Linked DNA regions of Homo sapiens. The protein of the gene in region 6 purifies or fractionates together with the protein of the main gene of each other region. This does not show direct contact. Each region holds a gene or a part of one and is shown on either strand. Other genes may lie near its edges.

The links.
Region 1: the proteins of TRIM52 (region 6) and MAPKAP1 purify together in Homo sapiens (affinity purification with mass spectrometry; one large-scale study listed by BioGRID and IntAct). This does not show direct contact.
Region 2: the proteins of TRIM52 (region 6) and WDR11 purify together in Homo sapiens (affinity purification with mass spectrometry; one large-scale study listed by BioGRID and IntAct). This does not show direct contact.
Region 3: the proteins of TRIM52 (region 6) and EXPH5 purify together in Homo sapiens (affinity purification with mass spectrometry; one large-scale study listed by BioGRID and IntAct). This does not show direct contact.
Region 4: the proteins of TRIM52 (region 6) and DNA2 purify together in Homo sapiens (affinity purification with mass spectrometry; one large-scale study listed by BioGRID and IntAct). This does not show direct contact.
Region 5: the proteins of TRIM52 (region 6) and MCM10 purify together in Homo sapiens (affinity purification with mass spectrometry; one large-scale study listed by BioGRID and IntAct). This does not show direct contact.
Region 7: the proteins of TRIM52 (region 6) and MAP7D2 purify together in Homo sapiens (affinity purification with mass spectrometry; one large-scale study listed by BioGRID and IntAct). This does not show direct contact.

The regions. Positions count from the first base shown.
Region 1 is NC_000009.12:125,441,334-125,445,929, forward strand, and holds part of MAPKAP1 (target of rapamycin complex 2 subunit MAPKAP1), read right to left. Parts: intron 3,266-4,596; coding exon 3,168-3,265; intron 1-3,167. UniProt on the Homo sapiens protein: Component of the mechanistic target of rapamycin complex 2 (mTORC2), which transduces signals from growth factors to pathways involved in proliferation, cytoskeletal organization, lipogenesis and anabolic output.
Region 2 is NC_000010.11:120,853,655-120,858,250, forward strand, and holds part of WDR11 (WD repeat-containing protein 11), read left to right. Parts: intron 1-2,097; exon of another isoform or gene 2,098-2,476; intron 2,477-4,596. UniProt on the Homo sapiens protein: Involved in the Hedgehog (Hh) signaling pathway, is essential for normal ciliogenesis.
Region 3 is NC_000011.10:108,506,179-108,510,774, forward strand, and holds part of EXPH5 (exophilin-5), read right to left. Parts: coding exon 3,359-4,596; 3' UTR 1-3,358. UniProt on the Homo sapiens protein: May act as Rab effector protein and play a role in vesicle trafficking.
Region 4 is NC_000010.11:68,430,474-68,433,973, forward strand, and holds part of DNA2 (DNA replication ATP-dependent helicase/nuclease DNA2), read right to left. Parts: intron 2,038-3,500; coding exon 1,921-2,037; intron 1,843-1,920; coding exon 1,733-1,842; intron 1,499-1,732; coding exon 1,389-1,498; exon of another isoform or gene 1,384-1,388; intron 188-1,383; coding exon 1-187. UniProt on the Homo sapiens protein: Key enzyme involved in DNA replication and DNA repair in nucleus and mitochondrion.
Region 5 is NC_000010.11:13,167,448-13,172,043, reverse strand, and holds part of MCM10 (protein MCM10 homolog), read right to left. Parts: intron 1,123-4,596; coding exon 781-1,122; intron 1-780. UniProt on the Homo sapiens protein: Acts as a replication initiation factor that brings together the MCM2-7 helicase and the DNA polymerase alpha/primase complex in order to initiate DNA replication. Additionally, plays a role in preventing DNA damage during replication.
Region 6 is NC_000005.10:181,254,199-181,258,791, reverse strand, and holds the end of TRIM52 (E3 ubiquitin-protein ligase TRIM52), read left to right. Parts: intron 1-1,205; exon of another isoform or gene 1,206-1,297; coding exon of another isoform or gene 1,298-1,378; exon of another isoform or gene 1,379-1,563; coding exon of another isoform or gene 1,564-1,584; exon of another isoform or gene 1,585-1,737; coding exon of another isoform or gene 1,738-1,743; exon of another isoform or gene 1,744-1,932; coding exon 1,933-1,983; 3' UTR 1,984-2,276; coding exon of another isoform or gene 2,277-2,321; 3' UTR 2,322-3,645; downstream 3,646-4,593.
Region 7 is NC_000023.11:20,109,855-20,114,450, reverse strand, and holds part of MAP7D2 (MAP7 domain-containing protein 2), read left to right. Parts: intron 1-4,596. UniProt on the Homo sapiens protein: Microtubule-stabilizing protein that plays a role in the control of cell motility and neurite outgrowth via direct binding to the microtubule. Acts as a critical cofactor for kinesin transport.

The DNA.
Region 1 (4,596 bases), on a different chromosome or scaffold from region 6:
TCGGGCCAGGTTCAAGTAGAGGCTCCACCCTTGTGTGCTCTGTGACCTTGGGCCTCCATCTCCTCTTCTATAAAATGGGGACAATGTCTACATTCTGGAGGGCGGTCAGGAAGATTAAACAAGATAATGGACATTAGATGTACTGCATGTAGCTGGTGTTCAATAAATGGGAGACGTTCCTATTTCTACAAGCGCAAAAAGCTCGATGGAGGCTTTGTTCATGATTGTTTATTTGACATCAGATTGTGGCTCTTATTTCCTCCCTTCAATTTCCATCTAAGCTCTCATTTTATGTAAAATTCCTGAATTCTAGAACAACAGCATGCATTACTAGAGTCTAAACTGACTCCTCAAGAGCTTCTGATGGCAACAACATTTCTCCCAAGCTCCCGGACACAGGGCTGGGCTTCCGTTGCTTGGTACTGGTGCAAAGCTCACAAAGACACACTCAGGACACTGCAGGAATGGTGGATAAAACTAAGTATTCCAATTGCTATAAAAATCAGAGATGGGGCCGGGCCTGGCGGCTCATGTCTTTAATCTCAGCACTTTGGGAGGCTGAGGTGGGCAGATCACTTGAGGCCAGGAGTTCGAGACCAGCCTGGCCAATGGTGAAACCCCGTTCTCTACTAAAAATAGAAAAAAATTAGCTGGGCTTGGTGGCGGGTGCCTGTAATCCCAGCTACTCGGGAAGCTGAGGCAGGAGAATCACTTGAACCCGGGAGGTGGAGGTTGCAGTGTGCAGAGATCACACGACTACACCCCAGCCTGTGCAACAGAGTGAGACTCTGTCTCAAAAAAAAAAAAAAAAAAAAAAAAAAATCAGAGGTGGGAGAAGTACTATCTCATCTTCCATCAGGCTCATGATCATTAGCTCTAAGTAAATCAGGCCTAGGGTATGCTACAACTCTTCTGGAGTCTTGTGCATGACACAATATTTCTGCAAATATTTTGATATGGAAACAGACACTTTAGGGAAGGTGACAGACCTCACGGATTTTGCAGAGAAGCATCTGCTTCGAGGGAGCATTTGGACCTGTAAAATGATTTCTCTGCACTTGATCTTCCACAGTCTCATACTGAAGTCATAAACCTGTGTTTCTGTCATCAATCTGCTGTTGTGAAAATTATTTTGATGTCAAACATGGGATTATAATTTTACTAGAATCCTTCTCAAGTCTTGAATATTTTAATGCTGGCTATAAAAAAAAAAAAAAAAAGTCCAGCCCCTATCGGGGTAATGGAATATTTCTCTGCCAGGTCCCTGAACACTCTGCACAAGGGGCCCGTGCTGTCTGTGATGCTCCAGTGGGTAACTCGAAGCTCGCTGGCTGCAAGCACTCCCAGGCAGGCCCGTGTCCCCACTCCTTGGTCCAAGGAGGGGCTCTGATCAGGCTGGTCTATGAACCCTCTCCCTTTCATCCAGCTAATCATGCTACTCTGTCTGCTCCAAACTGTCCTTCCAGCTGCTCTTTTAAATTGCTACCTACTCCTTTTGAAAATCTTTTGCAGCCATGGGGAATGTGTCTCAATATATTCCTGGATCGCAATTCTATTTCATTGAAATCTCCCACACAACTCTTAGGTCATGCATATCTGGGGAATTAAAACACAAGTCTGAAATCTGTCAAATCTGGGGGCAAGTTCTGGTTCTGCCAACTTACCAGAGTCATGATCCTGGCTCTGCTACTTTATTCCTGATCCTCACTTTTCATCTGGGAAATGGGAACAACTTTATCTCATGATCTCACAGAGCTGTGAAGATGCACTGTGATGGGACACGTGGAGCCTCTGGCCCAGGTCCTGCACTGTGCAGTCCCTCAGCATATCTTCGCTACTTCTGCTATTATGTGATGACTTCAACTCTTCAGAAGAGACTGAATGATAACTTACATAGGTTTACCATGTCTCATCTGATTTGTACTCTAGCAGCCCTGGTGGGGTGGGGTAGCATAGGTACTATGATCCCCACTTTACAGGTGGGGACACTGAGTCCCAGAAAGGTGATGTGACTAGCCAGGGTCACACAACTAGGGGTGGGGGAGCCCTCTCTGGTCCTCGCCCCTGCTCTGCCACAGCAGCTGCTTTTCCTATCTGATCAACCTATGGAAGATTTGGCTTGAAGAAAGGATTCTCTGCTTGGGAGAGGCTGAGACCCCTAGTCCAGGGCTACTCAGAGTGTGGTGCCCAGACCAGCGGCCAAAGCAGCATCTGGCGCTTCTTGGAAACGTATGATCTCAGGTCCTATCCCAGACCTCCCAAATCCGCAAGACCCCTGGAGGCTCCCATGCCAAGCAGAGCTCCTCTCAGCCACACTCCACTCTGCAAGGCCCTGCACGGCCTAGCCCCGCCAGCCCCGCCAGCTCCCCCAGCCCCCCCAGCCCCCCATCCCCCTGTGCCTGCCTTGCCTCAGCCCATTCCCAGGCTGCCTGTCTGTGGTGCTTCCTCTCTCTTTACCTGGTCAACATCTGTGCCTTTTCAGTCATCCTTCAGGGTTCAGCTCTCCCTGCCTCCATACCTCCACCCCAAGTCAGTTTACTGTGACACACCCACACCTTTGAGACTAACGATCTCTTTGTAATTTTGTGTTTTATGCCTGTTTCCTCTGGTAGAGGAAAAGCTCTCCAGGGGCAGGGACAGAGTCTGTCACCGTGGCATCCCAGGCCGTGGCCAGGCACACGGAAGGTGCTCAGTGAGTATACTGTTTAGGTATGGTGACATACAAGTCTAGCAGAAAGTTAGGTATGTTTAGAACAGGTTGCTAAAATCACCTTCAGCATAATTATCTTCAAAACAATAATAATTTCCTCAGAGTCTGCTCCAGGAGCTTCAAGGAGCTCCTGACAATGGTTGCAGGAAAATAAACAGTACATAAAAGGAATAAACAAATACAGGAAGAGCCAGGGTTATTGGGATTGGGAGGAAACTGAAAAGGGTCCTGCTTTGACTGAAGCAGGTGCAGAGCAGCTGAGCGGGGGCTGGTGTGGCCCTGGCACAGGCACTCACCCCTGGGTGGCTGGCAAGCTGCGACACTCCTCCTCTGCCAAACTGGGCCCGGGAACCTTCTATAGAGCTGCGGAGTGGGTGGGGCTGCGGCCATGCCGCAAACAGCCTGAAGAGAAGCTGGACCCACCTACCCTGTCTCTGGTTCAAGAAGGAATACTCACCTTGAGCACAATTTCATTGACGGTAGCAGCGTCCGATTCAAAGTAGAGGTGTTTATAGTCGTGATTGCTTAGATACGTGAGTTTAAATATTGCGTGACCTGCAGAGACAGAAAACTGTGTTGAGGGGTTCTGGTGAGTTAACTATGGCGGGGGCCTCCATATGTTCTCCCCTATCATTCCAATTCGAGCGAGAGCAAGTGGAGGCTGAGCAGCACCTAGTCTTCCCAGGAGTAGTTCGTTTTCTCATTACAGGCTGGGTATAAAATGGACAATGAAAAAATTTTAAAGACTCAACAGCCAGTTAGGTCCCATTCCACTCTGGAATGCATTCAGGGGAATGCCACGTTAGGAAGGCTTTACGGAACTGCTGCTATATGATAATTACATGCAAAAGGTGGCGTTTTTAAGGGAGAAGGCTAATTAACTCCACATTATTACTCTAAAAATAAACTAACTGTTTAAAGTCAGATAAATGAGCAACAGGAAGGAGAAGGGTCAAAAGCCACACTATTATGAGGCTGCTCCACAGCCTGGGCTCCTGCTGGGAGAGGACTCCTGCCTGGAGAGGGAGAATCCCAGTTTTAGACCCTGCTGGAAGCTGCTCCCAAAGGCCTCAGGTCATCTCAACCCTGGGAGGATGGGGGCGGGGGGGGCACCATGGAAAGTGGGCACCTCACAAAGCGACCGACTCCAGGGGGCAGAGCTTCTGAATATAAATCTGATCTAGGTCTCCATTCTCCATGCCCCGTCCTACCACCTTCAGGATGACACTTGTCATTTCTGGGACTGCTTCCTGGTCTAGCCTCATCTCACTCCGCTGCCCCGACAGGCCACAGGCTGCCAGAGTGCTGCACACTCCCACCTGCCACACCAGCCTCTACACAGGTTCTTCCCCAAGCCTGGGATGTCCTCTCTCACTGACCCGGATGGGAAAGATTTGCTGATCCTGGGTGGCTCAGCTCAGCTGGCGCCTTCTTGGGTGAGTCTTCATAACCACACTTCTAGGCGCACTTCTTGTGTGGGCCTACCACACGGTACCGTGGCCCTCCAAAGGAACCTGCTTGTCTTATCATACCTGCAGCCATGGCTACATTATCTGGGCCTGTCCTTTTATGTCCAGACAGGTCAATCGGATTCCCTCTTCTAAATGCAGACATAGATGCTAGGCTGTCTAAACTGGCACAAGGACTGAGAATAAGATGAGGGGCTTTGGGACTCCCAGGCTCAGGCCCATGGGGGCTGCCCCGGCCTATCGGCACTGTTATCCTTGGGTTCTAGGAGACTCCTGTGGCCTTCCAAGAAATTCTTCTTTCGCCTTAAGCTACTGAAGTTGGTTTCCATTACTGGCAAGCAAAGGAACAGTGCCCAAGAGAGACACGTAGTCAGTATTCAGTAAACCTTCCTAGACCAAGGAGCAGCAGGTGACATC
Region 2 (4,596 bases), on a different chromosome or scaffold from region 6:
CAAGACTGGAGGCAGTAAGATCATTTAGGAGATTTCTGCAGTAATTTTGGTGGGAAATTCTAAGGGCCTAAAATAAAGCTGGGGCATGGAGAAGTCATGTTTAAGAGCAGCAAAGAGGTAAACCTGATAGCCTTTATAGTGATCAGTATAAAGGAGAGTAAGAGAATAGAGTGACTCCAAGGTTTCTTTTGGTGTAATTGAATGACAGTGTTTCCAGTTATCAGAGGTAAGCATCTGTGAAGTCAGTGAATTTTTAAGTTTTCAACATGCAAAATCTGAGATGCCTGTAATATATTGCATTATAGTGATCCGGGCTTTAGGAGATAGGTCAGGATTAGAGATAGAGATTTGGAGTCTTTTTCTTTTTTAAATAATAGCTTTATTGAGATACTCATACCATAAAATGTACTGACTTAAAATGCACAATTCTGTGGCTTTTAGTATATCCACAGTTAATGCAGCCACAATTACAATGAACTTTTTTACCTCAAAAAGAAACCCTATATCCACTAGCAGTCATATTCCATTTCCCCCATTTCCCTCATCCTTTGGCAACCACTGACCTACTTTCTGTGTCTGTAGACTGGCCCATTCTGGGGATTTTATATAAATTGAATCATATAATTTGTGGTCTTTTGTGCATGACTTCTTTCACTTAGGATAATGTTTTCATGGTTCATCTGCGTTGTAGCATATATCAATACTCTGTTACTGATGAATAATATTCCACTGTAAGGATGTATCACATTTATTTTATTGATGGACATTTGGATATTTTGTACTTTTTGCCTGTTACGAATAATGCTGCTTTGCACATTCATGTGCAAGTTTTGTGTGAACCTGTGTTTTCATTTCCCTTGAGTATGTTTCTAGGGGTGGAATTACTGACTCATATGGTAACTCTGTTTAACTTTTTGAGGAACTGCTGGACTGTTTTCCAAATTAACATTCTCATTAGTAGTGTATGAGGAGTCTAATTTGTCCAAATCCTCACCAACGCTTGCTGTTCTCTGTTCTTTTGATTATAACCATCCTAATGGGTATGAATTGATTCTCATTGTGGCTTTGGTTTGCATTTCCCTGATGGCTAAAGGTGTGGAGTATCTTTTCATGTGCTTATTGGCCATTTGTATATCTTCTTTGGAGAAATGTCTATGCAGGTCCTTTGCCCATTTTAAAATTGTATTATTTATCTTTTTATAATTGAGTCGTAAGATTTCTTTGTATACAGTAGTCCTCCCTTATCCAGAAGGGAAATGTTCCAAGACCCCAGTGGAAGCCTGAAACCCTGGATAGTACTGAACCCTATATATATTGTGCTTTTTCTCATACATACTTACTTATGATAAAGTTTATAAACCAAACCCTGTATATACTGTTTTGTCTCATACATACTTACCTATGATCAAGTTTATAAATTAGGCATAATAAGAGATTAACAACAATAACTAATAATAATAAAGGAGAACAATTATAACAATACATCAGCATTACTACTCTTGCACTTTGGGGGCATTATAAAGTAAAATAAGGGTTACTTGAACATAGCACTGAGATATCACAACAGTTGATCTGATAATCAGTATGGCTACTGAGGGCAGGTGGTGTATACAGCATGGATGTTCTGGACAAAGGGATGATTTATGATTAAGGCAGGATGGAACAGGACAGTGGGAGATTTCATCATGCTATTCAGAAAAGCGCATAATTTATGAATTGTTTATTTTTAGACTTTTTTGTGTCATATGTTTGGATTGATACATGATTTGCAAATATTTTCTCTCAATTTGTGGGTTGTCTTTTTACTTTCTTGGTGGTGTCTTTTGAAGAACAAAACTTTTTCATTTTGATGTAGTCCAATTTATTATTTTGTATTGTTGTTGCTTGTACTTTTTGTGCCATATCCAAGAAACCATTGCTTTCTCCAATATCAAGAAGATATATACCTTTGTTTTTTTCTTAGAATTTTAGAGCTTTAGCTTTTAATCCATTTTGAGTTAATTTTTATATATGATGTGAAATAGGGAAAAATACTATTAATTTTTGTTTATTGATCATATCCTGTAATCTAGCTAACTTCACTTAGTAGATCTATTTAATAGTAATTTTGGGTAAATTTTTTTTAAGTAGACAGTCATGTCACTGCAAGTGACTGCAGTTTAATGTTTTCATTGATAATCTGTGTGTCTTCTATTTTTCTTGCCATGTTGCATTGGCTAGGACCTCTACTACAATGAATGGGAGAGTAGTGAGAGGATACTCTTGTCCTGTTCCTGAGCTTAGGGGGAAAGTATTCAGTCTTTCATCAAGTCTGATGTAAGGTATAGGGTGTTTTGGGAAAAATATATTTACCTTCTCTTTCCCTCTCTGTTTCCTTTCCCCTACACTGCCCCTTGGCATTTCTGGAGCTTTTATTTCTTTATGTAGGTCCAAGTTTCAGTCTGGTATTATATTCCCATCGACTGAAGAATTTACTGTAAGTTCTTAAAGTGCCTGTCTAATATTGGTTGATTCTCTTAGCTTTTATTTCTCTGAGAAAGTATTTCACCTTTGTTTTCGAAAGATAATTTTCAAAGGATATAGAATTCTGGGTTTATAATTTTTTTTTCTAGTAGTACTTTACAAATATCATTCCATTGGCCAGGCATGGTGGCTCACACCTGTAATCCCAACACTCTGGGAGGCCGAGGTGGATGGATCACCTGGGGTCAGGAGTTTGAGACTAGCCTGGCCAACAAGGCAAAACCTCATCTCTACTAAAAATACAAAAATTAGCCAGGCGTGGTGGTACACACCTGTAATCCCAGCTACTTGGGAGGCTGAGGCAGGAGAACAGCTTAAACCTGGGAGGTGGAGGTTGCAGTGAGCTGAGATAGTGCCACTGCACTCCAGCCTCGGCAACAGAATAAGACTCTGTCTCCAAAAAAAAAAAAAAAAAAAAATCCCTCCACTATCTTCAAGCTTACATAGTTTCTGATGAAAAATTTTTGTTTTTGTTTCTCTGCATTATATCTTTTTTCCTCCGATTATCTTCAAGATTTCCTTAACCTTGGTTTTCAATAGTTTGATTATTAAAATATATATATATATGGCTTGGAGTTTACCTAAATGGAATTCAACATATACATATACAAATATATACACATATACAAACATATATATACACATAGAGACAGTCAATTCTTGTTATTTGTGGTAGCTATATTCTGTAAAGTTGTTGTATACACTGAATTAGTGAATACTGAAACTTTGTTTGCTCCTAGGGGTTAGGTTCTTGTGAGGCTCTGGTCACAACATTTTCATCAACTGATCAATAGATAACCTTGCTTTATATGTGTTTCCGTTTAAAGACATATTAATATGTCAGTTGATCTATTAACATTGAACTCATAGCCAACAACACATGCCTGAGCAAAGATTATCACATATATATATATGTATGTATTTTTTGCAAGACACATCACAACTTCTCATACTTAGAAACGGTAGGCAGTATGCTTGGGGACCTATTTAAACAGTGAAGTCACCAGCAAAAGGAACAAAAATGTGAAAAATGTGGTACTAAATAAATCATGAGATGAACACTTGTTTTGCCATTGGAAAAGCTAAAGCAAGAATTCTTGTTTGACTTCAGCTGGGAACACACATGTATGTTCGGTGACATTTTTTTCACCATTCTGCACTTGTCCACAAAAGCACTGCAAGTATTGATTTTGAGGTTGCAAATTATAGTGAGTAGGTAAATTGACAAATACAGAATCTATAAATAACTAGAATGGACTGTGTACACATATATACACTATACATATTCTATTCATACACATTCTATACCTATGAACTTAAACATATACACATACAAATATGCATACACACATACATATGCATATATACACATACCTCATTTAAAAATTTTTGCCTGAGCAAAAGATCTATTACAGGAAAACCTTAAGGCCTGTTCACGCTCATTTTCAGAAAACGTTGTTTCCATCTTTTTCATGAATACTACTGCAATTGGTTGGCTTACTTTCCTACCTTAGCATTATATATGAGTGTATTTATATCTGTACACATATATAGGTATATACATTTATATGTATTTATAGATTTGTGGTATTTAAATCTACTTATTAAACAGACCTTGGACACTGTACTAAGTCTGAGAATAGAAATGCAAACAAAGACCACATGGTGTGCCCTATGGAACTTACAGTTGATGGACTCATGAATAGGCAAAAAGAATGTAAATAAAATAAGTACAAATTGTGTAGTAGTAAATGCTTTGAAGAAAATAAGCAGGATACTGAGAAGAGAGGGGTGGTAGTGACCAGGGAAGGCCTGACTCCTAGTGAGGACTATGAAATTTTTCCCTTATTCTGTCAGTATTCATTGTTCAAGAATTTAATCAGATTTGCCCTGGAGTTCATGTGTTTTTTATTTTAAAAATTCTATTGTTAATCATGTTGCTATAGGCATGAAGCATTTTTTTTTTTTTAGAGAAAAACTTAATGTTTTGTGAAAGAGAGAGACAGCTAGAGTTTTTTGTTTGACTTTGCCTTCTCCTGACTTTCCCTCTGCAAGGTTTTTGTGTTTCTAAGT
Region 3 (4,596 bases), on a different chromosome or scaffold from region 6:
GAATATAAAAATGACTATTATAAGTTACCATAGCTATACCAAAAATGAACATTAAAATGCAGCGACTTGTATGTTAAAATACATAGAAATTTGCTATACTTCTTTAACAAGTGCTTTATAAAAGTATAAAATTATAAAAGGTGCTATTTTCATGAATTTTGTGTTTTCCTGATACTTCAGCCAGACCAACATGCAAACGTTACAAATAGAGCAACTGAACACTGGCCATCAATTACCTTTGAATTTAAACAGTACATTCCAGCGCAGTCTGGGCCCCAAAGCAGTTTCACCCTTACCTAACTTACCTAACTCTTAATATAGCCTAAACTCACTGAAAAATAAGCTAACTTCATTTCACCTTTTGTAGCATACACGTAGACTCAGAGTATATACTGAAATATAATTTGAAAGCTGATCATTAAAAAAATCAAGAACCTCAATATTAAAATATTAACTCTGAGTATCTTAAAATTGCATAGAAAATGTAGGTCATGGTTTATTAAAGTTTTACTTAAATAATCAGATAAATAGGGCTGGCGAGGTGGCTCATGCCTATAATCCCAGCAGTTTGGGAGGCTGAGGCAGGCGGATCACCTGAGGTCAGGAGTTCGAAACCAGCCTGGCCAACATGGCGAAACCCCGTCTCTGCTAAAAATACAAAAATTAGCTGGGCGTGGTGGTGGGCACCTGTAATCCCAGCTACTCGGGAAGCTGAGGCAGGAGAATCGCTTGAACCTGGGAGGCGGAGGTTGCAGTGAGCCGAGATTGCGCCATTGCACTCCAGCCTGGGCAACAGAGTGAGACTCTGTCTCAAAGAAAATAATAATAATAATAATAATAATCAGATAAATAGAAAAAGAGGAAAGGCAGAATTTACAAACATATATTAACCAAGAAATAGTGTTATTTATTCTTTACCATACAAATTTGCATTGAAAAGTTCACAATATTTGATTTTTGAGCTTTCTGAGCTCAGGATTGGTCAGAGCTTGAAGTTTAAAATAGTTGACAGATTTAGGGAATAGCTTTCATGTTAGTTACCGCATGTTCATTAGCTTTGAGTTGCATGGGAACCATGTAAAGTAACCCACGCATTTTGCGTCTATGTAAGGGAATGATTAGAAGGATAACAACAACATAGTTCTTTCTTAACTCTCTATCAGTTCCAGATCTCTATACACTTCACCAACATCTATCATTATTCTTAGTTTATAATGATGAAACAGACTAGGTATAAAAAATGGAAAATTAGATTAGGTCGCGAAGCAAATATAAACCAAGCAAGATAAAATCCACTCATGTTGACTATCATAGTATTGAGATCCAGGAATCCATGCTGTCTGTAGTTAAAGCAGATTATCTTCACTGCCATCTATTGGTCTTTATCCTGAATTAGGAGAGAAATCCCCCGAGGTTCTGCATGGCAAATAAAGAGTTAGGAAAGCCAAAATATCAGTGGGTATCATAAGTGATTTACTCTAGATAAATCACTGAATCATAGTGACAAGCCCTTAGGAGCTCTGCCTTAGAATTTCCCAAGGGTTTCGTAGATGATCCTGCAGCAAAGAATGAATTCCAGGGTGTCAGATCTGACTTGATGGCATTTTAGGGACTTGGCCAAGGTTCCCACTTGATATTTGGGACTAAAATGCCCCACCTGAAAAGAAGCGTTCTACCTTGCAATTAAAGAAAATGTGGGCCAGGCACGGTGGCTCATGCCTGTAATCCCAGCAGTTTGGGAGGCCGAGGTGGGCAGATCACCTGAGGTCAGAAGTTTGAGACCAGCCTGGCCAACCTGGTGAAACTCCAACTCTACTAAAAATACCAAAAAAAAAAAAAAAAAAAAAAAAATTAGCCAGGTGTGGTGGTGGGTGCCTGTAGTCCCAGCTACTTGGGAGGCTGAGGCAGGAGAATTGCCTGAACTTGGGAGGAGGAGGTTGCAGTAAGCTGAGATCATGCCATTGCACTCTAGCCTGAGCAACAAGAACAAGACTCCACCTCAAAACAAAAACAAAAACAAAACAAAACAAAAAAAGACTGGGCATGGTAGCTCATGCCTGTAATCCTAGCACTCTGGGAGGCTGAAGTGGGCGGATTGCCTGAGCTCAGGAGTTCGAGACCAGCCTGGGCAACACGGTGAAACCCCGTCTCTACTAAAATACAAAAATATTAGCTGGGCGTGGCAGCGTGCGCCTGGGTGCGCCTGTGATCCCAGCTACTCTGGAGGCTGAGGCAGGAGAATCGCTTGAACCCGGGAGGCGGAGGTTGCAGTGAGCCCAGATCATGCCACTGCACTCCAGCCTGGGTGACAGAGCAAAACTCCGTCTCCAAAAAACAAAAACAAAACAAAACCAAACAAAAAACAAAAACAAAAAAAAGAAAATGTGAAAATGGATAGTTCTGAGGAAATGGGAAAAGCCAGTTGCTGAGAGAACTGCAGTAAAGGTAAGTCGGTCCCATGAAGGGATACCTACTTCCTACCTCTGCTCCTCAGCTATGTTCTCTTCATAAGCAGAAATTCTGTGACCAGGCAACTTTCTGTATGGTCAGGTTGCCTGGCCTAAGTCCTTGGCTTGACTAAAAGCCCTTAATAATCCAGCCAGTCCCCCACGGTTTCAGAGGAATTTCTAGGACTGCTAACCTTCTATTGGCTTACTAGGGATTCAGGTCCTAATCTATAACCTCAACATGTGCTTTGACCATGTGCCTCCCAGGCTCCACTACGGATATAACAGGAAGTACTTACAAAATTCCTTTATCTTTTTTTTTTCCTTTTTGCAATCAGTTTCTCAGGTTAAAAAATAAATTCCTTTATCTTTGTTTGAAAGAGAAGATCACCACCTTAAACTTCCTAAATGTTCATGAGTCAAACAGGATGATAATATTTACCCCACTGTTATCATCCCTACCTTTTATTTAATGTCATGAGTATAGGGTGTGGACCGGAAGAAGCAATACAGAGTTTCACAGTTGTGCTGGGTAATTCATAAGTTTTGTATGTGCCTGGGATATTAGGGTTGTAAATCACAATTAAAGATGAAAAATGTTAGGAGGGAAGTAAAGCAGAAAGCCCAAATCAGACAGTGAATCAGGGATTAAGTGGGAGTGGTGGAAAGGCAGGCTAAGAACATTTACAGAGATAGAAAATAGCAGAGACTCTCTCAAAACAAGAATTCATTGTTCTAGCATTCAGGAAGTGTCTATATAGGGTGTGGAGGAAAAAAAAGGAGATGTGGGACATTTCAGAGCAGACACTGCCCAGACTAGATCTTTTATCCTTCCATGCACATGCACATGTACACCTTAGTTCCATTATAAGCTTTTGGTGAAAAAAGTAAAGCATTTTATTGAAAAAGCCTCACAGTTCTGACTCTTTGTCATTTTCATCCAGGTAGTATTCATCATCTGTGGTTGTGTCTGTGTCACAATCTGAGTCCACTGGGTCATCCTCATAGATATTAAGCGGTTCACTTGGAGATAAGCCATCTTCTGGCACCTGACTACTGGGAGAATTTGAGCTTAATGACTCTGAGGGGTTGGGAGGGTTCCTCAAATCATCTTTTAGGAAGCCAGGGTTCTTAAGAAAACTTGGTTTCCATAATCTTCCTTGTGTAAGTGACCTCTTTACATTTTCTAAGAAAGCTAACTGTTGTTCTTTCCCAAAGATCCCATAGTCGATAGGTCTGTATATAGATATTGCAGACCTGGGACCTGTTTTTGTCCCGCTGCGATAAGCCCAACTTTCATTTCCATCACAGGAGGGGAGTTCAGAAAAAGATCTGAATCTTCGACTGTACCCATTGTTGACAGAGAATTCATTCCCAAGGGTCAGTCGACTCAGGGCATTGTCAATAGAAGTGCTTTCAGAAAAATGGCGCTCCCTGACTTTTGGAGGATGGCTTTTTCGTAGTAGATCGCCATGAACATTAATGCTTTTTAAACTCTTTGAACGATAGAGGTGTGGCTCAGGTTCCCACTCCAGAGATGAAGCACTCCTTTGTTGCTGCAGAAAACTGGCCAGTGGACTGCTTACTCTAGATTTCTGTGCAGGCTCCAGTGGAAAAGGAGGGCTCAGCCTCCTCTGATTGTCAGAGAATTCTGCTTCCCTGAGGCTGGTGAATGTGATGGGTGATGGGGCTCCTGATTCTCTTACTAAATTCTGAGCTGCTGTGACGTCTTTAGAATTCTCATGCTTTGATGGTGATTCTGAGACGTTTTTAAACTCATTCTGATGTCGTTGTGAAATGCTGTTAGACTTCTGGTTGCTGACGTGTGTAGAAGGTTCTCTGTTGGGTAGTACAGTAATGGGGAGAAGGTTCTCGGATTTCTTCACATGCTTTCCGTTCTCACTCAACCTGCTTTCGCCAATGGACTCTGCAGATTTTGGAGTAGGCTCAGGGAACAGTGGGTTGCACTCCACTGTGCCAAGAGATAAATGGTCAAAGCCAGATCTGCTTCCACTTTGGGGGAAGATAGTAGCTACATGTCTTCTGGGGCTTACATCTTTAGCTGGGAATTTTCTGCTGGCTTTAGACATGGCTGCCAATCTGTGTTTAACTGAAGATCTATTTTCCCCCTTTACTAGGTCATCCAAGT
Region 4 (3,500 bases), on a different chromosome or scaffold from region 6:
TAATGGACTTTGATCTGCAAATTTCTTGCTCTGTAAATTGCTGGATAGCTGGATGAACCTTCTGAATCTGACCCAAACGCAAAAATCCTATTTTAAACTTGGCTAACTTCAAAAGAATATTGTCAACAGCAGAGTGTGTATAGCTGGTCAACAAAACGCTAAAACCACAGGCGTAGAGAATTCTTACCTAATAATGGGTAAGAGAAAAAAGAAAAAACAGCCTTACTTTTAATTCCAGATAATTTTTAACATGTTTATAAACTTAACAAGAACCATATCTAAGAGCTGAGCCAAGTAAAAATTATGAAGCCAAAACATTTTACAAAAATTACATGACATTATTATACGTTATTAATAATATGTCAATAATACATCATAGGCCAGGCATGGTGGCTCACACTTGTAATCCCAGCACTTTGGGAGGCTGAGGCAAGTGGATCACTTGAACCCAGAAATTCAAGACTTGCCTGGGCAACAAAGTGAGATGCCATCTCTTTTTAAAAAATTCTTTTTTTAATTAGCCAAATGAGGTGGTGCGCCCCTGTGGTCCCAGCTACTTGGGAGGCTTAGGAACGAGGACTGTTTCAGCCCAGGAGATTGAGACTGCATGAACTGTGATCATGCCACTGCATTCCAACCTGGTCTCAAATACCAATCCCCCTGACTTGGACTCCCAAAGTGCTAGGATTACAGGCATGATCCACCTCGCCTGGCTCACGTTAACAAGACTCCATCTCAAAAAAAAAAAAGAAAAAGAAAAGAAAAAAAGAAATTTACTGACATGAAAAAAAAAATCCAAGAAAAATCTCTAACATCTTTTTTTTTTAGGATGGAGTTTTGCTCTTGTTGTCCAGATTGGAATGCAATGGCGTGATCTCAGCTCACTACAACCTCTGCCTCCTGGGTTCAAGTGATTCTCCTGCCTCAGCCTCCCGAGTAAAGCTAGGATTATAGGCGCATGCCACTACGCCCGGCTAATTTTTGTATTTTTAGTAGAGAGGGGGTTTCACCATGTTGGCCAGGCTGGTCTTGAACTCCTGACCTCAAGTGATCCGCCCGCCTTGGCCTCCTAAAGTGCTGGGATTACAGGCGTAAGCCACAACGCCCGGCCTCTAACATCATCTTTAAAGGGAAAGGAAAACATATAGTGATAAATATCACATACCACTAACGGAAAGCGATCTTAGAAAATTCTAAATGCGAGAAATCTACATGATTACAACTGTTTGTGCTTCAGCTTTACTATTTCTCATCATTCTAAAAAGTTCATTTGAAACAAAGACACTGAATTAAAATTCAGCCCTTTTGATATTCAATATTACATCCTCTGAACTGAGGAGAAGCTGATACAAATATTTTGTCTCTAAGCAGAAGAATAATAACCTTACGAGAGTACATATCGTAGTTGTTTTTCCTGTCCCAGGCATACCCACGATGAGTGTGTAGTCTTTTGAAAGAAGTACCTTTTTCATCGCTTGCCTCTGAGGCTTATTCAAACCTACATTTAAATTCAAAAATAACAGGAAAAAGAGTGTTGAATTTCAAAGGAAAAGTTAATTATTTCATAAGAAAAGCAGTCTCTATCCAAGTCTATTCTTCAATACAAAACCATTTCCAAAGAGTCTTGGTCTAAACATTGTAGTTGCAAGTCTAATCAAGATATTAGACTACAGTATAAATCAAATAGAAACAAGAAAAATTAATCAAAGCAGACATGGTGATTTTAGCATACCCTTTAGAATGCAGGCAACTGTATCCTTTGCATCATGTGGAAGAACAGAACTAAGGTAGGATATAAACTGAGGTTCACGAAAGTCAATAATTAAATCTCGAAGTTTTTTGCTGAAAAGTGAAAAAGCACTTTTAGTAATATTCCTTAGAAAAGTGGAGTGAAATTCAAATTTGCTCATTGTTACAAACCTGACAAACGTGTTTTCCATCAATTTGGAAAGATTTCCTAATGGGGTATCTATATCACAATTTTTTTCTTCTTGGTCTAATCTGAACAAAGTTGATTCTGGAAGGACCGACAAGTTTCTAAAACAACAAAACAAATATACATGAATGCTCGCCATTTCGCATAGTCTGTATAAGAAATATGCTGCTATCTGCTAAAAGAATGAATGGGCCAGAATAGCTATTAAAATAGCTACCAGCCCTCAGTCACACTTGCCAATCAAGGACAGCATGAGGCCCTGGATTGGTGGGAAAAGGCAGAGGGAAGGGGAAGGTCCAAGGCACCAAGGTCAAAGCAATTAATAATTGGGAACCTGCAACATTTGCTGAAAATTCATTTACCCTTGCAGTCGAACACGGGTTCACCATCCCCAGAGGGATCCTGAATGCATGGCTCTTCCTTCCTCTAACCTGGAGTGCAGGCTTCTTTTCTGCCACCTTCTCCCTGTCTTCTATCTGTCCCTTAAGCTCTGGTATTCCCTAGAGTCCCTTCCCTGGTTCATTGTACTACTCTTTCTCATTGTTTGCTCCAGGGTCCCAGGCCCTCACGTGCCTCCAAATTCCAAATTCCATCTTTAGGCCTGACCTCACACTCCTCTCCTACCTGGTTCCTCACCCAAGCTTTGGGTTTGGATATTTAGTAGGCAGTGAGATCTCTCCACTTAGCTAAACCCAGGCTGTGAAAGCACAGTACTTTCAAAGCAGAACTCCTCCTCATCCCTGCTGAACCTGATGCTCCTTCTCTGGTCCTGATCACAGTTAATGGCATTGGCATTTGCATTTGCACTGCCATCTTGATCCTTCCCTCTCCCTCATCCTCTCCCCAACCCACACACCCAATCAGTATCCAAATGCCAGCCACTTTTACTTTCTAAATACTTCTCAAAGTCATTCCATTCTCTCTGCCAACACTACCCTGCCTCAATTTCCTCTAGCCTGGGTCACTGCAACAGCTTCCAGGTTTGCTTTTAGTTTTTCTTCCATTAATGAACTCAATTCTCTACAATGTAGCCAGAGGAAAATGCAAATCCAATGATTACCCACTCTTCTGTTTAAAACCTTTCAATACAATTCTATTTATTCAATAGAATAAATAAAATCTAAACTTTTTTTCTTTTGAGAGAGGGCCTTGTTCTGTTGCCTAGGCTAGAGTGCAGTGGCATGATCATGGCTCACTGTAGCCTTGAACTCCTGAGCTCAAGCTGTTATCTCACCGCAGCCCCCTGAGTAGGTGGGACTACACGTGTACACCACCACACCTGGCTAATTTTTTAATTTTTTGGAGAGATGGGGGTCTCACTATGTGGCCCAGGATGGAAAACTTTTTAAAATGATACGTAAGACATTCTATGACCTGATCTAATTACTCTCTTCCTTATATTTTATATTCTAGAAATAACGTAATTACCTGCATTATCCTGAATGCTCCATGTCACACTACATCACACGTTTGTGCAACAGGTTTGCCCAGTATAGTATTCTCTTCTCACACTGTTTCACCAGACTAATTTATTAATCCACAGGATGAAGATTCAGAATTAGCT
Region 5 (4,596 bases), on a different chromosome or scaffold from region 6:
ACAGCATTTTGGGAGGCTGAGGCAGGAGGACGCAAGAGCCCAGCAGTTCGAGACCAGCATGGGCAACATAGGGAGATCCTGTATCTACAAAAAATAAAAAAAATAAAAAAAATTAGCTGGGCATGGTGGTGCATGCCTATGGTTCCAGCTACTAGGGAGGCTGTGGCAGGAAGATCACTTGAGCCTGGGAGGTGGAGGCTACAGTGAGCCAAGATTGCACCACTGTACTCCAGCCTGGGTGACACAGCAAGAATCTGTCTCGGAAAAAAAAAAAAATTATATTTACTTCATAAATTGGATATCATAACTAATATAATAAATGCTGGCTTCTGTATTAGAAGAAACAGCTAACCATTGAATTTTACTATAGCTTAAACATGTATGAGATGCCAGGAATGAGAAAAGAACATGTGTCAAAGCTTCTGTTCAGGAATGCTCTGCTCAAATAGATATGTGGCAGCTTTGCAACCTTGTCTCTGGCTCCACATCCACATACATCCCAAAGTGCTACTATTCCATAAGAAATATGAAAAGTTTCAGAGCCATTCCGTACAGGATCAAGTGCAGCTGGCTGACACTGATAGAGTCTATAGTTTGTGCTGAAATGCTGGCCCAAACATTTCATCTACCAACTCATATAATTTTCTTTCTTTTTTTCTTTTTTTACAAAGTCATTTATCTCTACCCTTGAATCAGCAGCTATTTTGATGACAACTATCAGATTGGTGGTCTTCATCCAACTTATCCGAAAGAAATAAGGAAGGCAAGTAGTTAGGGCACCTTGCAACTCTTCATTCGTTTTCTCTCGCCTGGGGGCAGGAGCAGGGAGGACCCTATTTTCAGTTGACTGTGATGCGGGAACTTCTTCTTCATCTGTTAAGTCCTCCATATCTCCAAAGAGAGTGGCCAGATTTTCCTTTTCGTCTCTTGTCTCTCCTGTTTCTCCATCATCAGCCTCTTCTGTATAAGATTCACCGTCGCCGTCGGCATCAAAGAGCTCATCAAATGCGTCGGGCTCGCCATTTTCCCGCGTCAAGAAGTTATTTTCTTCTGAATTACAATCCAAGGCTGACTCATTTTCTTCCAGCAGTGCGGTCAGCAGAGACAGATTGTCTTCCTCCTCTAGGGGAAAAGAAGAGAAAGGACAGAGAATAAGCACGGCTAATTCCAAACATTCAACTTTAGGCAATTTAAATGACCCCATGGGGGTAAGAGAAACTACCTAATGGGTACAATGCTCATTACCTGGGTGATGGGTTCAACCATACTCCAAACCTCAGCATCACACTATATATACATCTCTGTAACAAGCCTGAATCTAAAATGAAAGCTGAAACTAAAAAAACAAACAAACAAACAAACAAAAAAAACAAAAACCTACAGATGCACCATTTTGCCTGGTCTTTGTTCTCCTTGTCTCCATCTTTCTTGTCCCCAGGTGCTTCTTAGGGGACACTGGGCTAAGAAGGAGCCAATACTGCTTAGTGAGTAGAGTGGGCCAGCCACGGGGCCAAATGTCCTCAAGCATTCTACTCCAATCAATGAGACAGCTTCCCGCACACCGACTTCCATGAAATTCAACCAACAAGGGAATAATTTTAAAACACCAAACATAGATTTAGGCTTTAGATGTATATAATTCCTGACCTTCAAATTATTTGAGATTTAAAAAAAAAAAGATACAAACTATATAAAAAATACTAAGATCCCATCACCCAGAATTAGCCATCATTAACATTTTGTTGTTTGCTTCTTGCCTTTAACATTAAATAACACCTTCCAGATGAAGTCTGTCATGCCAAATCTTATCCCAACTCCTGACCACTGCCCCCACTTCCCATTGTAATCACTTTCATAATTTTGAGGCATCATTCCAGTCCATTCTTATGCTTTTACATAAATATATAGGCAGTCATAGTCAATCTATATTAGATGGTTTTAAAAATATTTACATAAATATTCCACACTGCATTACTCTGCATTCCAGGTTCATTCAACATTGCTTGTAAGATTAACCCAAATCAAAACATATAGTTCTAGCCAGGCGTGGTGGCTCACGCCTGTAATCCCAGCACTTGGGGAGGCCAAGGCAGGAGGATCACCTGACATCAGGAGCTCAAGACCAGCCTGGCCAAGAAAGTGAAACCCCGTCTCTACTAATAATACAAAAATTAGCTGGGCGTGGTGGCCCGTGCCTGTAATCCCAGCTATTCAGGAGGCTGAGGCAGAAGAATTGATGGAACCTGGGAGGTGGAGGTTGCAGTGAGCCGAGATCGCACCACTGCACTCCAGCCTGGGTGACAGGGCGAGACTCCATCTCAAAAACAAACAAAAAACCCCATATAGTTCTAGTTTCTTTCTTTTCGTTGCTATATTGTATCCTATAATAAGACTGTATCACACCTCATTAATCCATTTTCCAATAAAGGACAATATGGGCTATTTCTAATTTTTCCCCACTACTAAATACGCTGTAATCGTGTATCCGTCTTCTCGCACATGTGTTTCTTGGGAATATCTATCAGAAATGGAATTGCTGGATTGCTGGGTATCCACGTTTTCCAATTTTGCTAGATGCTGCCAAATTGTTCTCAAAGTGGATGCACTCTTGAAATGGCATAGTTCGTCTGGGGTAATACCTGAGGTTCGTTGTCTCATGCAAAGGAAATCAAGGATGCTGACACACAAGGAGTGAGGTTAAGTGCAGAGATTTAATAGGCAAAAGAAAGAGAAGAGCTCTCGGCAGCAGAGAGGTCCCAGAGAAATGGGTTGCCGCGTCCATGGCAAAATGCATGGGGTTTCATAGACGAGCTTGAGGACGCAATGTCTGATTTACACAGGACATAAAAGATTGGCTGGACTAGGTATGCCATTTGCATAGGGTGGAAAACCTGGCTGCCCCACCCTAATCTTTTATTATGCAGGTGGTTCTCTACCTGGCCAGCGCCATATTGTCTGTTTCTTTACTGTACACGTGGTTGACACAGAAAAAGGGCCGCCATGTTGAACACGCCTGGCCCCCAGGGAGCCTTTTCCTATTGGCACAGCTGCAGGTATTCATCCGTGCAAATTACTAGCTTGCTTTTCTATGTCCGCTTGATTTTTCTGGCTGGCCTTGTTAGAAATTACTTGGGGGCTGCTTTTTGCTAAAAGGGAAATTCTGCTGAGGACTCTGTTGCCCTTACTATCTCCCTAAATAATTGCTATCATCTGTATCACTCTCACTAGAGCTGTACACAAGGGCCACTTCTCCCCACCACCTCATCAATATCTGATGTGTCACTTAAATATTTTTTTGTCAATCTGATGGACGATTTAAAAAGGCATCTCACTGTTTTGATTTGCATTTCTTGGATTACTGGTGAGGTTAAGAATTGTTTGTTTATTTGCCAATCGGATTTCTTCTTTCTTGATTTATCTATTTTCTTTGCTCTTTTTTCCCCCCTATTTGGGCACTATTTGTTTATAAAATCAGAGGTATTCAATGGAAAAATATTAAGGATATCTGACCTACTCTCCTTGTCTGAAATTCAGGGGCTAGAGTATGAGAGGGTGAGGGGCTTGTTCAGGATCACATGGAGAAACAGATCAGTTCAGGAGCTGGGTTAATAAGGAATCTCTAGATCAGCAAACCAATATCCTTTCCACCACTCTACACTCCCTTACCAGAAGGAAAAAGCCAGTAGCCAAACTTCAGGCCTAGAATCTGATGATGGGGCCTAATGCTCAGTCAGAGGTTGTATAAGGATTAGCTTGAGTTGCTTAGTCCACAAAGACTCCAAGGCTGCACAGTGCAAGAGAGAAGAGGCCAGGCAGCCCCCTGTGCTCTGAGAATGTCACATGCCTGCAAGGAAGCAAAGAGGCCTCCACCATCTCTTGTTCCCGTCTGCCAAAGAGGGCACACCCCGGGAAGAGGCTCTGGCTCACACCACTGGGGGCCACAGGTGGAAAATGCTGCCTGGGGACCCCATACTATTCACTTTGAACCCTTCACAAGAGAACGAGGGCTAATCCCATGGTGCCTCACAACCCCGTTTACCTCAGTCACCACCAAAAATCATGTCTTCTCTGTATTACGCTGACTCAATCTCCCAGCCTCTTTGTTCTCAAACCCCTGGGATGTGAAATCTACTATCAGCACGTTTCTCGGATCCCCAGTGGCTCTTACAACAGAAATCTGGCTACCCCTGGAAGCCTCTTGAATGGAAAGCATTTAATTGTTCACACCTCACATGGCAATGTCTAGAATAGTGTTCGGCACGTATTAGGCATGCAACAAATACTTGTTGATCAACTTCAGGTTCCTGATGTCTTCTTTATCACTGTCACTTTGGAATGATTCAGTCTTTTTCCAGATCACAGCTCTCTGAAGTTCAAGACACCAGACGCTGGCATCAAGAACCCCTCATGGCACTGTCATGTGCTGATCATCATATGTGTATCATGCATGCCCCCCCCGGTCCTCCCCTCCATCTCTACTGTTATCACCCTCCTGGGGCACTTCAACCTCCGCAAGGATGATCCAGCCAACATCTTGGTCGCTGGGTTTCTCATCCACTCCCCATCTTAGCTACCCACTCCCATAGTAACTCCAAC
Region 6 (4,593 bases):
ATAGTAAGGGTAAGTACTGCTTTATGAAACTTTTAAGTTATATATATATACATGTATATACTTCATCTAAAAATATATTGCTTTCTTTGAGTTGCAGTCAAAACACAAACACAGAGCACTGTCCTACAGGCTTCATGTATTAGATATTATTATCACCCCCCTGCCCCCATTTTATAGCAAATATTGGGAAGTGCACAGTTAAGGCACAAATCTAACCATAAGTCACTGCTACCTCTGTTACATTAACCTGACTTGAAGGACAAATCCTAGTACCATGTTTTCACCCAAGGTGATAACTAAAGTATCCCATGGAAAAAACTTATGTCCTATGCTTCTGGGTTTTAGTATACTGAAGCTGAGGAAAAGAGAGAACCTTCCATTTCTCTTCTAACTTTTTTTTTTGAGACGGTATCTTGCTCTGTTGCCCAGGCAGAAGTGCAATGGCATGATCTCGGCTCACTGCAACCTCCGTTTCCCGGGTTCAAGCGATCCTCCTGCCTCAGCACCCCTAGTAGTTGCGATTACAGGCACATGCCACCATGCCCAGCTAATTTTGCATTTTTAGTAGAGATGGGGTTTCACCATGTTGGCCAGGCTGGTCTTGAACTCCTGACCTCAGGAGATCCACCACCTGGGCCTCCCAAAGTGCTGGGATTACAGGCATGAGCCACTGTGCCCAGCCTTCCTCAGCTAACTTTTATCATCATCCCCTTCCCCCATTTTATAGTAAATATTGTTAAGTGCACAGTTAAGACACAAATCTTTTTTTATTTTTATTTATTTATTTATTTACTTATTTATTTGAGCTGGAGTCTCGCTCTGTCATCAGGCTAGAGTGCAGTGGTGCGATCTCGGCTCACTGCAACCTACGCCTCCCGAGTTCAAGCGATTTTCCTGCCTCAGCCTCCCAAGTAGCTGGGAATACAGGTGCGCACCACCATGCCCAGCTAATTTTTGCATTTTTAGTGTAGACGGGGTTTCACCATGTTGGCCAGGATGGTCTCAATCTCTTGACCTCCTGATCCCCCCGCCTCGGCCTCCCAAAGTGCTGGGATTACAGATGTGAGCCACCATGCCTGGGTGTCTCTTTCATTCTTTAGGCAGTTCATTGTCACTTCCTTCCATTGGTAAACATGTAAATTATAGTCGCATGATTTAGAATTTTACTGACCAAAGTCATAATAATAGTTAACAGTACAAGGAACTATTTTTGTATAATGGTTTATTTAATACAGTATACATTATCTTTCATATACTTTGTTACAATGTTAAAAAAACTTCATTTTTCATAATATAGGAAATAAAGTTGGAAACAACTCTGGTGGGAATACTTCAGATAGAGCAAGAAAGCATTCACAGCAAGGCCTATAATCAGTAAGATGTGTGAAAAGTTGGGTAGCCACAGGAGGTGTTCATTAAGGATATGATTCCATTTATATAGCTATTTCTATTGCATAACCAGGACAGTTTTATTGTTTTGAGGTCAATGTTCTTTTAAAATTTGATTTTCTGTAAGAAGAGGCTTTTTGGCCCAGAAAGCCTTACTTATTTTACATCTTCCAGTTTGTCCATCCCATGAGTTAGAGTTCGTCTTGACTCTGCAAGCTAGAATCAAAGAATTATGAAAGTAAGATCATTTAGATTTGACCAAGGGCACCATTAAATGGTGTCAGGTTTTAGGAAGCAGACGGGTGTATAAAAAGAAAATGAACAAAGATTTCACTTATTGGGGATCAGGCATAACTGGATGCCTGGATTGTCCTGCCACCCAGCTGCCACCAATAAAATCATTCATCACTCTGCAAGAGGGACCAGATGCTTCCATCATCAGTACTCCTTGTTTTTCTGTTATCTCCTTTGAGGTAGCTAAAAATGGCAGCCAAAAAAAAATGTTGAGGCTTTTCTCAAGTATATACTCATGTTATTTTGCAGAAGATAGGGTCAACTTCTTCAGTTGAGTTATCTGAAAGTGTTGGGCAGTGACACCATGCCAAACACTGTTAAATTCATGCCATTAAAAACAGTGGAGTGTTCTGCAAAGCCCGATTCTCTGCAGCTTTAAGACTGGACAGTATTGAAATATTCACAGGAATCTTCCAAGCCGTGAAAGCTTAATATTAAACAGCCCTTTTAATTGCAAAGGAGAAAAAAATGGAGACACTTGTGAAACCTTGCATTCTGAGTGCTGCCACAAATAAATTAAGGAATTCCAGAATTTCTTCATCTACTTCTGCAGTCTTAACTCTGAATTAATGACTGTATATATCAAACTTCAGATCTTAAAAAACATCAGCTCGCAAGAGGCTGAGGCAGGAGAATGACATGAACCTGGGAGGCGGAGCTTGCAGTAAGCCGAGACTGAGCCACTGCACTCCAGCCTGGGCAATAGAGCAAGACTCCATCTCAAAAAAAAAAAAAAATCGGCTCATCTTTTATTGCTGTTGGTTGAGATGAATCTACTGATGAAGAAAACTGTACTTTGCTTACATTCAGAATAAGGCTTTCAAAACTGTGGGTGTGCTGTTTTCGTGAGCCTTCTACTTGACCACCAAAGACAGTATTTTTGCAGCTGTATCAAATGAACCGAGTTGGAGGAAATTGTATAGGAGTATATCTTAATGGCACTACAGCAAACTGTGTTAAATTTGGGTTTTTGGCAAAGATTGAAGAAAACTGGTATTCAAGATGTACTGCAGCTGTCACCACCAAGCATGAACTTTCACTGATTACCCATAACCTACTGGAAATCTTCAGCCTTGCTGTCAGCATAGACCACTGTGAGAAACAGTACATTCCATTCCAGTTTGCCCTGCTTTTTGAAGATCTAAATGCCATTCCATGTTTTCTGTTACATATTGAAGTTTCTTGGTTGCCAAAGAAAAACGGATTCTGCTGAACTTGTGGACAGAACAACCCCAAGGTTGGAAGAACAATGAAAAATAATCTATACTTGAACATTTCAAAAGTTAAAATTTTCAACAGAGTTTTAACACACTGAAGCTTAAAATACATTGACACTGAAATGTCAATGGGCAAACACCAATTTCGCCGTTCATTATGAAATACATCAAACAAAACTTGCCAAAAATACAACCATAAAAATATAGCAAATGTATGTATGAGCAAACTAATGCTAAAAATGTCTAATTTTCTTGGCTAGTCTTTCAAGGACCAGATTCATGAGTGTTATTTGAAGGGAAAAAGTGAAATACTTGGAATTATTTTGAGTGATGTGCTCCTGAGCTTGTTCTTAAAATCTACCAGTGGTAGCTTTTGGAAAGAATGTGTTTCATACCGATGTGCAGGCCTCACTGGAAGAGCTTCAAGAGGAGTTTGTGAAACTCAAAGTCTAATGGTTTTGATTAGAAACTTCCAGGCAAATACTCCAGAGAAACTTGGGTGTAAAATGACTAAACAGATGAAAAGGCTTTATCCACTATTCCATTTGCTCCTTACACCTTAAAAAGCTTTTTTATTTTTTAATGTTTTGATATATCTAGCTTTGGGGAGAAAGCAGTGCAAGAGTGTTATTAAAAGCAGCTTGTGTTTTCTTGCACCTTTCACACCACCCAGGAAAGAAAAGTTCAGGCTTAACAGTGACATGGCTATCACATCATCTGAATAAATTTTTTCCTTCTAAAATTACTACTGCTTTCATTAATTTCAATCATGATACTTAATTTTGAAATTGTAAATGGAGGGGCAAATGTGAGATTTTCAGGTATATGAAAAGTAGAAGTGTGGGTTACAAAAACATTGAGGAAAAACATACAGCTCACCTGTTTATTGAATGTCTTCCCTATTAGGTTCAGCTGTTCACTGCTGTATCACAAGTCAGACTGTTTAAACTTGTTCCTCTACTTCTGTGGCTGTACCCTGGATCTCATCTTCAGATTGGCTACACATCTGAAATCAACTCCCATTGCACTATGACCTTAGCTCTTAGCCTTCCAATACACTTAAGCACACTCCAATTACACCTGCCCTTCAGCTTTAGGGAGCCCACTGTTTCACTGACTCCATATTTTTTCCTTCCCAATTTATCAGACATTTAACAGCCTTACTATCCTACTGAGCCTAGACTGCATGATTCATTTTGGCATAAAGACCTGATACAGGCCGGGCGCGGTGGCTCACGCCTGTAATCCCAGCACTTTGGGAGGCCAAGGCGGGTGGATCACGAGGTCAGGAGATCGAGACCATCCTGGCTAACACAGTGAAACCCCGTCTCTACTAAAAACACAAAAAATTAGCCAGGCATGGTGACGTGCACCTGTAGTCCCAGCTATTCAGGAGGCCTGGGCAGGAGAATCACTTGAACCCGGGAGGCGGAGGTTGCAGTGAGCCGAAATCGCCGTCACTGCACTCCAGCCTGGGCGACAGAGCGAGACTCTGTCTGCGGGGGAAACAACAACAACAACAACAAACCTGATTCATGTTGTCATCTAAACCGGATTGATTGATTGATTGATTTCTTTTTCTTTCTCTCTCTCTCTCTCTGTTTGACAGAGTCTCGCTCTGTTGCCCAGGCTGGAGTGTGGTGGCACGATCTCGGCTCACTGCCAGCTCCGCCTCCTGGATTCATGCCATTCT
Region 7 (4,596 bases), on a different chromosome or scaffold from region 6:
ACAACCTTTAACCAGCAGATAGAATCACCAGATCTCAACCATATTTCCTTTCTTTCTTTTTAGATGAAGTCTCACTCTGTTGTCCATGCTGGAGTGCAGTGGCACAATCTTAGCTCACTGCAACTTCTGCGCCACCATGCCCAGGATCCCAGCACTTTGGGAGGCCGAGGCAGGTGGATCACTTGAGGTCAGGAGTTTGAGACCAGTCTGGCTAACATGGTGAAACCCTATCTCTACTAAAAATACGAACATTAGCCGGGCCTGGTGGCGCATGCTTGTAATCGTAGCTACTTGGGAGGCTGAGGCATAGGATCGCTTGAACCCAGGAAGCGGAGGTTGCAGTGAGCTGACCTCGCGCCACTGTACTCCAGCCTGGGTGACAGAGCGAGACTCCGTCTCGAAAGAAAAACAAAATAGGGTGGGGCCTGGAGATAGAGAGTAGGTGGTTATTGGAGACTGCGAAGGGTACTGGGGGGTGGGAAGGAGGTAGGAATGGTTAATGGGTATAAAAAAATAGAATGAATTAATAAGGCCTGGTATTTGATAGCACAACAGGGTAATTATAGTCAATAATAATTTAATTGTTCATTTAAAAATAACTACTAGTATGACTGGATTGTTTGTAACACAAAGGATAAATGCTTGAGGGGGATGGCTAACCTGTTTTGCATGATATGATTATTTCATATTGCATGCCTGTACCAAAACATCTCATGTACCCCAGAAATATATGCACCTACTACCTACTATGTAGCCACAAAAATTAAAAATTGTAAAATAAAAAAAAAAGTAGAGTGGGCCCGAGTAGCAAAGGCATTGGGTCCCCAAGAAATCGGAGTTCTTCATCCTTTTTCAAAGTTGTGTTTAAAACCATTCTTGAACGCTTTAATCCTAAAACTGTTCAGATCGCTGGGCGTGGTGGCTCACGCCTGTAATCCCAGCACTTTGGGAGGCCGAGGCGGGCGGATCACGAGGTCAGGAGTTCAAGACCAGGCCGGCCAAGATGGTGAAACCCTGTCTCTACTAAAAATACAAAAATTAGCCAGGTATGGTGGCAGGCACCTGTAATCCCAGCTACTCGGGAGGCTGAGGCAGGGAATTGCTTGAACCCGGGAGGCGGAGGTTGCAGTGAGCAGAGATTGAGCCACTGCACTCCACCCCGGGCGACAGAGTGAGACTCCGATCTTAAAAAAAAAAGTGTTCAGATCAAGAAGAACAAGAGAACAAGTTGAGTTTGTGCCTCTAGAGTCTCTTTGGTAGTAGGAAGGACCACAAACTTCCTACAAAGTTGTATTTGGTTTGTGGCTCCTGGCTTTTTTTACTGATGGCAGCATAGGACTTAGACTTAGCAGGACCTTCAGGACAAACTGCTGAAAGTCTTTGTGATTTCTCTTCTCATATCCTAGCCATGGTGACATAGCTGCTCAAAGTCTGTCATTTCTAACCTGCTTCCTCTCCAACATGAAAGGATGTTTTCCTCTCAGGTGCCCCATCTTCTGCAGTGGCTAGTGTTTTAAAAGAACACTTTGTCTTCTTGTAATTACATTGATTGCCTTACAAAACAGAAGGATTCACAAGGTTGATTTGGGCAGGCGAGAGATGGAGATTTCTGGGGGCTGTTGGTAAATATCCTGGTGGGTCTTGTTGAGAGGATTTGATGAGATATATTGGCTGGTGATACAATGATACTGCCTGGTTTTAGGGGGCTGTTCATGTGCTAAGTTGGCTCAGGCGGCAGTTCCAAGATTTGAAAACTTCCCATGGCCCTGCCCTCCGGTCCCTTTTGAAAGGAATTTCACCAGAAGAAGGAAGAGGGGGTAGTAGAGGGCAGCCGCCCTTAGGGAGGGAGTGTCCACTGTCCACCTCACATCTGAGTCGGCCGCATTTAAATATGGAGTTTACCGTCTTGGCATCTGAGGCTCTGGGTCTGACTAGGCCTTGGGATCCCGCCTCGTCTGCCTCTGAGGTCAGTCTGAATGCAAGCCCCCATCTGCTTTTCTGTTGGGAAGCATTTGTTTTCCTCTTGCCTAGGAACTTTTTCTGTTTTTAAAAGCCTTGTGACTAGCAGAGTTTGGGTTGTCATTTAAGCGAAAGGAAAACAGGTATGAGTGAGCCGCATGCATGCAAAGCATTTGAGGCAACAGCAGTGATGCCAAATGCCTGAGATCCTTGGAATGACAGGGTCTGTCCCCAGGGCTCCTAGCTTCTGACCAGTGCTGGGTTCGTTCACCACCTAAAAAGACTTGGCTTTTCCTCTCAGTGCCAAATAGGTTGGTGCCTTGTAGCCCCCAGGCAACCCTTTGGAATGTTCCTTGCTCCTTTGTCATCTCACCCGCTTCATCCGTCCCACCCTCTGTGTTTCTGTAATAACAGCTTTATGGCTGGTCGTGGTGGTTCACACCTGTAATCCTAGCACTTCAGGAGGCTGAGGCCCACAGATCGCTTGCACTCAGGAGTTCAAGACCAGCCTGGGCAACATGGCAAAACCCTGTCTCCACAAAAAATACGAAAAATTAGCTGGGCGTGATGGCACGTACCTGTAGTCCCAGCTACTTTAGGGGCTGAGGCGGGAAGATTGCTTAAGCCCATGAGGTCGAGGCTGCAGTGAACTGAGATTGTGCCACTGCACTCCAGCCTGGGTGACAAAGTGAGAGCCTGACTCAAAAATAAAAATAAACAGCTTTATCATCTGTATAAAATTCATATGCCATATAGTCCACCCATTTAAAATGCACAATTCGATGGTTTTTAGTATATTCACAGAGTTGTGCAGCCATCACCACAATCAATTTTAGAACATGTTCACCACCCCACAAAGAATCCCCATACTCACTGACATTCTTCATTCCCCCGGCCTCACAACTACCCATCTGTCTATATAGAGACCACGAGACTTCTGCCGGGACAGTCTTCAGCCTTTGGTGCAGACACGCGTTGCAATTGCCTAGAAGTCTGTGGGTGGGTCTTCATGCATTAGAGGTTTAGAAACCAATATTCTGCATACTCTGTCCTTCAGGTCTAAGACGCGCTTTTACCCTGAAGCCTTGCCTTTTCACCTCCTGTACATTCCCACTCCACAGGGCCTGCAAAGCGCTCAGAACCTGAATGTAATGTACACAGCGGTCTGCAGTTATATACTGCACATGTTCATTTTAGCTTCCCAGACAGTAATGGCCGCTAATTGTTGAGCACTTATGTGCCAACCCTCATAGTTCTGGGGGTTGCCTGGGCTTATTGGAGAAGTTCTGCTGCTCCATTTGGGGTCACCTGGAGTCCCTCATGCTGGTACAGTCTGCTGGTCTGCTGGGAGCTCAGTTGGGCTCGAAATGTCCAAGATGGTCTCTCATTGTCCAGGTACCTAATCACAGAGAGTCTGTCCTGGACTTTCTAACAGCGTGGCTGCTGTGCTTTGAATAAGGAAGCAGAAGTTGCCAGTTCTCTTAAGGCCTGCACATAGAAGTCCCAGAATGTCATTTTTGCTGTGTTCAGTGGTCAAAGCAAGTCCCAAGGCCAGCCTAGATTCAAGGGGAGAGGAAATAGACTCCACCTGTTGATGTGAGGGCAGCATGCACCTACTGGGAAATGAGAAATTGTTAGTGGCCCTTTTGGAGAATATCTACTGTAATAGGCAAGTACAGTCGTTCCTTGGTATCCATGGGGGATTTGTTCCAGCACCTCTCAAGAACACCAAAAATCAAGGATGCCCAAGTCCCTGATATAAAATGGTATAGTATTTGCGTGTAACCTATGCACATCCTCCCTTATACTTTTTTTTTTTTTTTTTTTTTGAGACAGAGTCTCACTTTGTCACCCAGGCTGGAGTACAGTGGCACGATCTCAGCTCACTGCAGCCTTGACCTCCCAGGTTCAAGCAATCCTCCCACCTCAACCCCTCCAAGGAGCTGGGACTATAGGCATATACCTCTATGTCTGGCTCATTTTTGTTTTTGTTTTGGTTTTTTTGAGACAGAGTCTTGCTCTGTCACCCAGGCTGGAGTGCAGTGGTGCGATCTCTGCTCTCTGCAACCTCGCTTCCTGGGTTCAAGTGATTCTCCTGCCTCATCCTCCCAAGTAGCTGGGACTACAGGCATGCACTAGCACGCTCGGCTAATTTTTTGTATTTTTAGTAGAGATCGGGTTTCACCACGTTGGCCAGGCTGGTCTTGAACTCCTGACCTCAAGTGATCTGCCCACCTCAGCCTCCCAAAGTGCTGGGATTACAGGCGTGAACCACCGTGCCCCTCCCTCCCTTACACTTTAAATCATCTCTGGGTTACTGATAATAAATGTAAATGCTATGCAAATAGTTGCTATACTGTGTCGTTGTTTTGGGAATAATGACCAAAAAAAAAAAAAAAGTCTGTGCAACCATCCACTTTATTTTATCTGAATATCTGAATCTTTTCTTTTTTTTTAAGATGGAGTCTCACCCTCTTGCCCAGGCTGGAGTGCAGTGGTGCAATCTCGGCTCACTGCAACCACTGCCTCCTGGGTTCAAGTGATTCTCCTGCCTTAGCCTCCCAAGTAGCTGAGATTACAGGCCTCTGCCACCACAACCGGCTAATTTTTGTATTTTTAGTAGAGTCGGGGTTTCAC